Linked DNA regions of Homo sapiens: region 1 is linked to region 2. Evidence: fine-mapped expression QTL. Tissue or cell type: whole blood. Region 2 holds a variant in brackets; the other region holds the start of a gene. All regions are shown on one strand. Distances are between the middles of the regions.

Evidence for each region. PIP is the estimated chance that this variant, and not a neighbour inherited with it, causes the effect. A credible set is the group of variants that fine-mapping cannot tell apart.
Region 1: UBAP1L starts here. The variant in region 2 is the best candidate, but not a certain one, in a credible set for the expression of UBAP1L in whole blood (INTERVAL, PIP 0.65).

Annotation. Positions count from the first base shown.
Region 1 is chr15:65,113,372-65,117,371 of GRCh38, reverse strand. It overlaps UBAP1L (ubiquitin associated protein 1 like), which reads left to right and starts at 2,172. Exons shown (of 6, transcript NM_001163692.2): 1 at 2,172-2,222.
Region 2 is chr15:65,194,301-65,198,650 of GRCh38, reverse strand. It overlaps CILP (cartilage intermediate layer protein), which reads left to right. Exons shown (of 9, transcript NM_003613.4): 9 at 1-3,891. The coding sequence ends at 1,920. Among named protein-coding and RNA genes, the nearest start is that of CLPX, 11 kb to the right of the region's middle. The variant G/A (reference allele first, on the strand shown) is at 1,861.

The DNA.
Region 1 (4,000 bases), 81 kb after region 2:
CCTTTGCTGCCAATTTGTTGCCTTCCAAATCACTTAACACACACTTTCACATTGATGAAACATATTTTCATTCAAAAATTCAAATTTATTAAGCAGGCATTTGTTACAGGAATTTGAATCTTAAATGCTAAACTTTATCTGCAAAATCCAAGTCTGGATTGGTAAGGATACCATCAATTTTGGAAATAATGTTACGTACTGTAGTTGGAAGCTTTTGGGTGCAAGATACTAATGGCTTTGTCCCTTTTCTGTTGTTTAATTTGCATTAATTTATACATTATATAGAGTCAACAGATAGGGAATGAGGGCCACATGTCTCCAAAATGTATGTCTACGCTTATAAATCTTAAAATCTGATATGATTACCCTCATAGAGCTCCACAATCCTGTGTGCCTTTTTGTTAGATATCTCCACCATTTGCTCTCTGATGAGATGCAGGAAGAGTAGAAATAAGGTGAATTGTACGATGTGTGTTTGGTGTCTGGACAGCCTTGCCACTAAGATATCTGCTGTGAGGGCAGGGAATGTGCTGCAGGGACTCAGGAAAACTCGGACAGCAGAACCCAAGAAGGTGGCATTTAGCCACAGATGGAGAAAAAAAAAATCCCTTTTTCCTTTGGCCCTTGCAAGGTTTTAATAAAGTGATCAGGCTGGGTGTGGTGGCTCACGCCTGTAATCCCAGCACTTTGGGAGACCAAGGTAGATGGATCACTTGAGGTCAGGAGTTCAAGACCTGCCTGGCCAACATGGTGAAACCCCATCTATACTAAAAATACAAAAATTAGTCAGGCATGGTGGCAGGCGCCTGTAATCCCAGCTACTTGGGAGGCTGAGGCAGGAGAATCACTTGAAGCCAGGAGGCGGAGGTTGCAGTGAGCTGAGATCACACCATTGCACTCCAGCCTGGGCAATAGAGCGAGACTCTGTCTCAAAACAAAGAAAATTAAAAAACAAAACAAAACATGAGCATTACTCTTGTTCGGTTTTTATTTGTAAGATTTTCCTGGTTTATTACCTGTGTGTAGTGGTGGTGGCAGTAGCCACTGGTTCTTTCAGGTTTAGAGAGACTCATGGTAGTATCTTTAATGAATTGTACTTTCAAGAATATGAGCAGTGTTATTGTAATGTTATCCCACAGTCTTTTTTTTTCTTTTTTTAACTTGGGGAAAATTTCAAATACATTCAAAAGTAAAGAGAATAGTACAATGATTTTTTTCCATGTACCCATCATCCAGCTTCAAATCATTATCAGCTTATGGCCAATCTTGTTTCATCTATACATCCTCCACTCACCCTGGATTATTTTGAAGCAAATCTCAGGCATCAAATTACTTCATCTGTAAATATTTCATTATGTAGCTTTAAGTGATTAAAAAAAAAATCTAACTACAGGGCCATTATCACATCTAAATAAAGGAGTAACAACTCCTGAATATCACAAATATCCAATCATTGTTCAAATTGCCCTCTCGTAAATGTTTTACGTTTTGTTCAAATTAGGATCTGAATAGACTCCATACACTGTTGTTTGCATCCTTGTGATGCCATGTCCCTCTGTTCTCGTATGTCCTATAATTTAGTAGTTAAACAGAGCTGTACTGTCCAATATAGTAGCCACATTCAGCTGTTGAGCACTTGAAATGTGATCTATTTGAGTTGAGATGTGCAATTACATATGTGGATCACGTTTCAATTGGATAGTGCTGATCTAGAGGCTTGATCACATTCAGATTGGAATTTTCTGGCAGGAATACTTCACAGACATAATGTGTACTTCCAGTCAGGAGGCACTGATGTCTTGGCTTTTTTTGTGATGTTAGCGGCCACTGATAAGACCCAGATTCATTCATTGATGGGGAGGGGACTCAAAAATAGTGATAGTTTAATTCTGTCATTCTTCAATTATTAACTGGAATACTTTTAAAAAGAAAAACTGTACAAAAGCATTTGTTTTTAATAAATTCGGTAAATACAGAGATTAGAAAGCTATGAGAGAAAGAGATTAGTTCTTAAATACTAAGGGTATTTAGCCCAAGTGGCTGAGTTTATGATGTCAAAGAATTTGCTGCTACAAGCCAACCAACTTAATCACTCTATAAAACCATTCATGCTCCTATGCCCATGTGACATTTGTAACAAGAAGCTTAGGCTTATGCCATCTGTTGTAGCTATTCATTTATACACGCTTTGTCTGCAGGGAAGTTCTCCTGGTAATTACAAGGTAAGTACAAAGTATATCTTATTCCATTTAAATAAGTATAATATGCAATATATGAAAGGAATGTGAACATTCTGAAATAGTAGTGATTTATGGAATAGTGATTAAATGAGACATTATCAACTAAATTTGTTTTTTGCCACCTGTTTGTCCCAGATTTTTTGTAATGCTTAGAACCTATAAGCTATTTCCATATGATGAGCTCTTTACCTTTTTGTGAATCCACATAGTAGTTCCTGGCTTCCTGTATCTGGCCACACATGAAGAGTATGTTTCCATTGCAGAGTTCATTTGCCTTTTGGAATAAATTTGGTTTTTCATAGCCTCCAAAGCAAAGATTAAGGTCTCTGAGGCAAGTGGTGTTAGAGTGCATAACTGTGTAGAACAGTGGACACTTTCCTCAGCTTTGTTAATTCATGCTGGCCACAGTCTGGATACCAGAATTTGAATTATGTTCTATGGGAAATGATTTTTTATTTACCATTTTCCAGGTACTGTGGTTAGGTGCTAGGGATGTAAGAAGGGGTGAACAGACAGGATTCCTGACCTCCTGGAGTTTAGAGTGAAGAAGCTTAATGATTATAACAGAGTCATTAGAGACAATTGTGATAAGTGCTACAAGGAAAAGTACTTATCAGCCAATTTATATATTTCATTCCAAATGTTTAAGTGCCTATTAAAGCTAAGCAAAATGCCAAATACTCCCTAACCTCATACAGAATACAGGCAATGAGGAAGGTAGATATTAACCCAATAATCATAAAAAATATGCTGAGTGCTTTGAAAGAAAGACATGGTTCTGAGATTATGAATTAGGATTTTTCTTCAAAAGCGTTCTGTGACACATTTAGTTGAAATAATAGGAAATATGTATCATATAGTAAGGGTAAGAATCATTATTCAGTTTACATATGTGTATGCTAGGAAATAAAAGTATACTATGGGTCATAGTTAAAAAAAAAAAAAAAAGGCTGGGCGCGGTGGCTCATGCCTGTAATCCCAGCACTTTGCGAGCCCAAGGCAGGTGGATCACAAGGTCACGAGTTCAAGACCAGCCTGGCCAAGATGGTGAAACCCTATCTCTATTAAAAATACAAAAATTAGCGGGCGTGGTGGCAGGTGCTTGTAATCCCAGCTACTCGGGAGGCTGAGGCAGGAGAATCTATTGAACCTGGGAGGCAGAGATTGCAGTGAGCTGAGATCGAGCCACTGCACTCTAGCCTGGGCAACAGAGCAAGACTTCATCTCAAAAAAGTAAAAAATAAAAAACTTTGTAAAGGCCACTGTGCTAGGTAGACCTGACCAAGTTTGAGAGTCAGGGCAAGCTTTTTTGAGGAAGTGATGTTTCAGCTGAGCTCTGAAGAATGAACAGCTTTTTCTTTTCTTTTCTTTTCTTTTTATTCTTGAGACAGACTCTCGCTTTGTCGCCCAGGCTGGAGTGCAGTGGCGTGATCTTGGTTCACTGCAACCTTCGCCTCCCAGGTTCAAGCAGTTCTCTCGTCTCAGTCTCCTGAGTAGCTGTGAGTACAGGCGTGTGCCACTACACCAGGCTAATTTTTGTATTTTTAGTAAAGAGGGGGTTTTGCCATGTTGGCCAGGCAGGTCTCGAACTCCTGACCTCAAGTGATTTGCCCACCTTGGCCTCCCAAAGTGCTGGGATTACAGATGTGAGCCATTGTGCCTGGCATTTGAGCAGCTTTTAATTAATTGTGGGGAAGCAACAGGGAAGAACTTAGCAAGTATCCAGAACAGGATATGCAAAGGTTCTGTGGGGACTGAGA
Region 2 (4,350 bases):
CAGAAGTTTGTCAACACCACCAAAGTGCTACCTTTCAACAAGAAGGGGAGTGCCGTGTTCCATGAAATCAAGATGCTTCGTCGGAAAAAGCCCATCACTTTGGAAGCCATGGAGACCAACATCATCCCCCTGGGGGAAGTGGTTGGTGAAGACCCCATGGCTGAACTGGAGATTCCATCCAGGAGTTTCTACAGGCAGAATGGGGAGCCCTACATAGGAAAAGTGAAGGCCAGTGTGACCTTCCTGGATCCCCGGAATATTTCCACAGCCACAGCTGCCCAGACTGACCTGAACTTCATCAATGACGAAGGAGACACTTTCCCCCTTCGGACGTATGGCATGTTCTCTGTGGACTTCAGAGATGAGGTCACCTCAGAGCCACTTAATGCTGGCAAAGTGAAGGTCCACCTTGACTCGACCCAGGTCAAGATGCCAGAGCACATATCCACAGTGAAACTCTGGTCACTCAATCCAGACACAGGGCTGTGGGAGGAGGAAGGTGATTTCAAATTTGAAAATCAAAGGAGGAACAAAAGAGAAGACAGAACCTTCCTGGTGGGCAACCTGGAGATTCGTGAGAGGAGGCTCTTTAACCTGGATGTTCCTGAAAGCAGGCGGTGCTTTGTTAAGGTGAGGGCCTACCGGAGTGAGAGGTTCTTGCCTAGTGAGCAGATCCAGGGGGTTGTGATCTCCGTGATTAACCTGGAGCCTAGAACTGGCTTCTTGTCCAACCCTAGGGCCTGGGGCCGCTTTGACAGTGTCATCACAGGCCCCAACGGGGCCTGTGTGCCTGCCTTCTGTGATGACCAGTCCCCTGATGCCTACTCTGCCTATGTCTTGGCAAGCCTGGCTGGGGAGGAACTGCAAGCAGTGGAGTCTTCTCCTAAATTCAACCCAAATGCAATTGGCGTCCCTCAGCCCTATCTCAACAAGCTCAACTACCGTCGGACGGACCATGAGGATCCACGGGTTAAAAAGACAGCTTTCCAGATTAGCATGGCCAAGCCAAGGCCCAACTCAGCTGAGGAGAGCAATGGGCCCATCTATGCCTTTGAGAACCTCCGGGCATGTGAAGAGGCACCACCCAGTGCAGCCCACTTCCGGTTCTACCAGATTGAGGGGGATCGATATGACTACAACACAGTCCCCTTCAACGAAGATGACCCTATGAGCTGGACTGAAGACTATCTGGCATGGTGGCCAAAGCCGATGGAATTCAGGGCCTGCTATATCAAGGTGAAGATTGTGGGGCCACTGGAAGTGAATGTGCGATCCCGCAACATGGGGGGCACTCATCGGCAGACAGTGGGGAAGCTGTATGGAATCCGAGATGTGAGGAGCACTCGGGACAGGGACCAGCCCAATGTCTCAGCTGCCTGTCTGGAGTTCAAGTGCAGTGGGATGCTCTATGATCAGGACCGTGTGGACCGCACCCTGGTGAAGGTCATCCCCCAGGGCAGCTGCCGTCGAGCCAGTGTGAACCCCATGCTGCATGAGTACCTGGTCAACCACTTGCCACTTGCAGTCAACAACGACACCAGTGAGTACACCATGCTGGCACCCTTGGACCCACTGGGCCACAACTATGGCATCTACACTGTCACTGACCAGGACCCTCGCACGGCCAAGGAGATCGCGCTCGGCCGGTGCTTTGATGGCACATCCGATGGCTCCTCCAGAATCATGAAGAGCAATGTGGGAGTAGCCCTCACCTTCAACTGTGTAGAGAGGCAAGTAGGCCGCCAGAGTGCCTTCCAGTACCTCCAAAGCACCCCAGCCCAGTCCCCTGCTGCAGGCACTGTCCAAGGAAGAGTGCCCTCGAGGAGGCAGCAGCGAGCGAGCAGGGGTGGCCAGCGCCAG[G/A]GTGGAGTGGTGGCCTCTCTGAGATTTCCTAGAGTTGCTCAACAGCCCCTGATCAACTAAGTTTTGTGGTACTTCACCCTCTTCTGCCCTCATTTCATGTGACAGCCATTGTGAGACTGATGCACAAACTGTCACTTGGTTAATTTAAGCACTTCTGTTTTCGTGAATTTGCTTGTTTGTTTCTTCATGCCTTTACTTACTTTGTCCCATGCTACTGATTGGCACGTGGCCCCCACAATGGCACAATAAAGCCCCTTTGTGAAACTGTTCTTTAAATGAAACACAAGAAATTGGCCACTGGTAAAACTCTGCAGCTTCAACTGTACTTCATTTAATGCCATTAATGCAAATATACTTCCTCTTCTTTTTGCATGGTTTTGCCCACCTCTGCAATAGTGATAATCTGATGCTGAAGATCAAATAACCAATATAAAGCATATTTCTTGGCCTTGCTCCACAGGACATAGGCAAGCCTTGATCATAGTTCATACATATAAATGGTGGTGAAATAAAGAAATAAAACACAATACTTTTACTTGAAATGTAAATAACTTATTTATTTCTTTGCTAAATTTGGAATTCTAGTGCACATTCAAAGTTAAGCTATTAAATATAGGGTGATCATAGTTCCTCTACCAAGTCTGGAAAGAACATCTCCTGGTATCCACAATTACACCAGGTTGCTAACTGTATTTGTACATTTCCCTTTGCATTCGCTTCTGTTCTTGCTAGAAACCCAGTGTAGCCCAGGGCAGATGTCAATAAATGCATACTCTGTATTTCGATTCTGAGGCCACTGTCCTGTCTTAACTATTAAAGTGAGCCAGCTTCTCAGAGGAGTACAGGGGACTCTGGAAAGCAGTCACAGGTGGTGTAAGTCCTCGCCCCCTAAGTTACAGGGCAGGGCAACATAGGCACACACTCCAGCAGTCAAATTTGTTCTCATGGATCACATTTTCCGTTTGCAGAAAAGAGCAGATTCCTGGAGTTGTGAGCATGTTCTGGGCTCCTGAGCAAGACTAAAAACACGTCCCGATTTTTTTCTTTCCTTCTTTCCAATACTTTGGAGCTTATACAATGGCTTGGCCCAGGGTCTGACAAGCTGGCCAAGTGGTCCTTTGGCTCTCCCAACAGCCTGTTGCCTTCTCCAGCTGGGCTGGCCGGCCTCACTCAGAAATGGGCTTTTACTTTTTTCTTTATGCTCTTCTAAAGATGTTCAACTTTTCCAGACACCAGATCTCTGTTGTGTGTTACAGACCCTGTCCCTGGAGCAAAACAATTGGTCCAAACGGGCAGAGTTTTGGTTTTGGAAAAGGTATTTGGTTTAAAATAGTAAATCAGAGGCCCATAGGTGGTGCCAGAGCGATCTCAGCGGCATTACAGTCAGGGTAGTGGGGTGTGGGGTTGGATAGGATGCACTCACTGCCCCTATCCCAACCCCTCCAGAATCTGTCAGGCAAGAGTCCAAAGGGTTTGGGAGAAGAGAGGACACTGTTTACAATCAGGACAAAAAGCTTTCCCTGATGCCCTGGCCAGCCTAGTGCAGCTCCTTTACCCATCTCTGGCCTGGGCTGGATTTGTACTCTTGGATCACCATCTGCCCGGCTCCTGGGAATTTGGTTTGTAAGCAATTAGAAATTTCTCTAGCTGAGCACATCACAATAACCATAGAAAAAGCAAGCATCTGCAGGAGTGAGGACTAGTGGTCTTGTGATTGCAACTTGACCCACTTCCAGACTCCACATCTGTCCCACTGCTCCCAGGAAGCAGCTCTCACTGACTGCTTGGGGAGGCTTGACTGCCCCTGTTGTGAGTGCACAGCTATCTGCAGCACCATCGCCCCAGCCACTTCAGGAGCCAGAGTGCCTGCTGCTTCAACCTGACCACCAGTTCACTTCAAACTCACGGGGGGAGGGGGAGGGTCGGGGGGGGGTGGGTTGCTGGGGAAGGTGGGCTGACTGGTTCCCCACTCTAGGGCACTTTCCTTGCTGTTCTCAATTGAGGGCCTGAATAAATGGACTCCAGCACACAGCATCTGATGCCTGACTTTTTCCTTCACTCGCCAAACATTTATTGAGTGCCAAACCATGTATGCAAGTAGACAAGCTTTTATGAGATAGTACAAAACATACTACATGTCATGGCATCAGACTTTGAGGAAGTAGTGGTCAAAGAAGTCTTCTTAGAAAAGGTGACATCTAATTTGAGGTCTGAATGATAGCTAGGAGGTGGCCTGCTAATGGTATGGCTGTCAGGAACGAGAGGCACAAGCAGAAACAGATGTGCAAAACCAGGGACTGCAGGCTGGGTGGGGCTTGCAGGCAGATACCTCTCTTTCAGACAAGGAAACACTTTTTTTTTTTTTTTTGAGACGCAGTTTTGCTCTTTCGCCTAGGCTGGAGTGCAGTGGTGCGATCTTGGCTCACTGCAACCTCTGCCCCCGGGGTTCCAGCGATTCTCCTGCCTCAGCCTCCCGAGTAGCTGGGATTA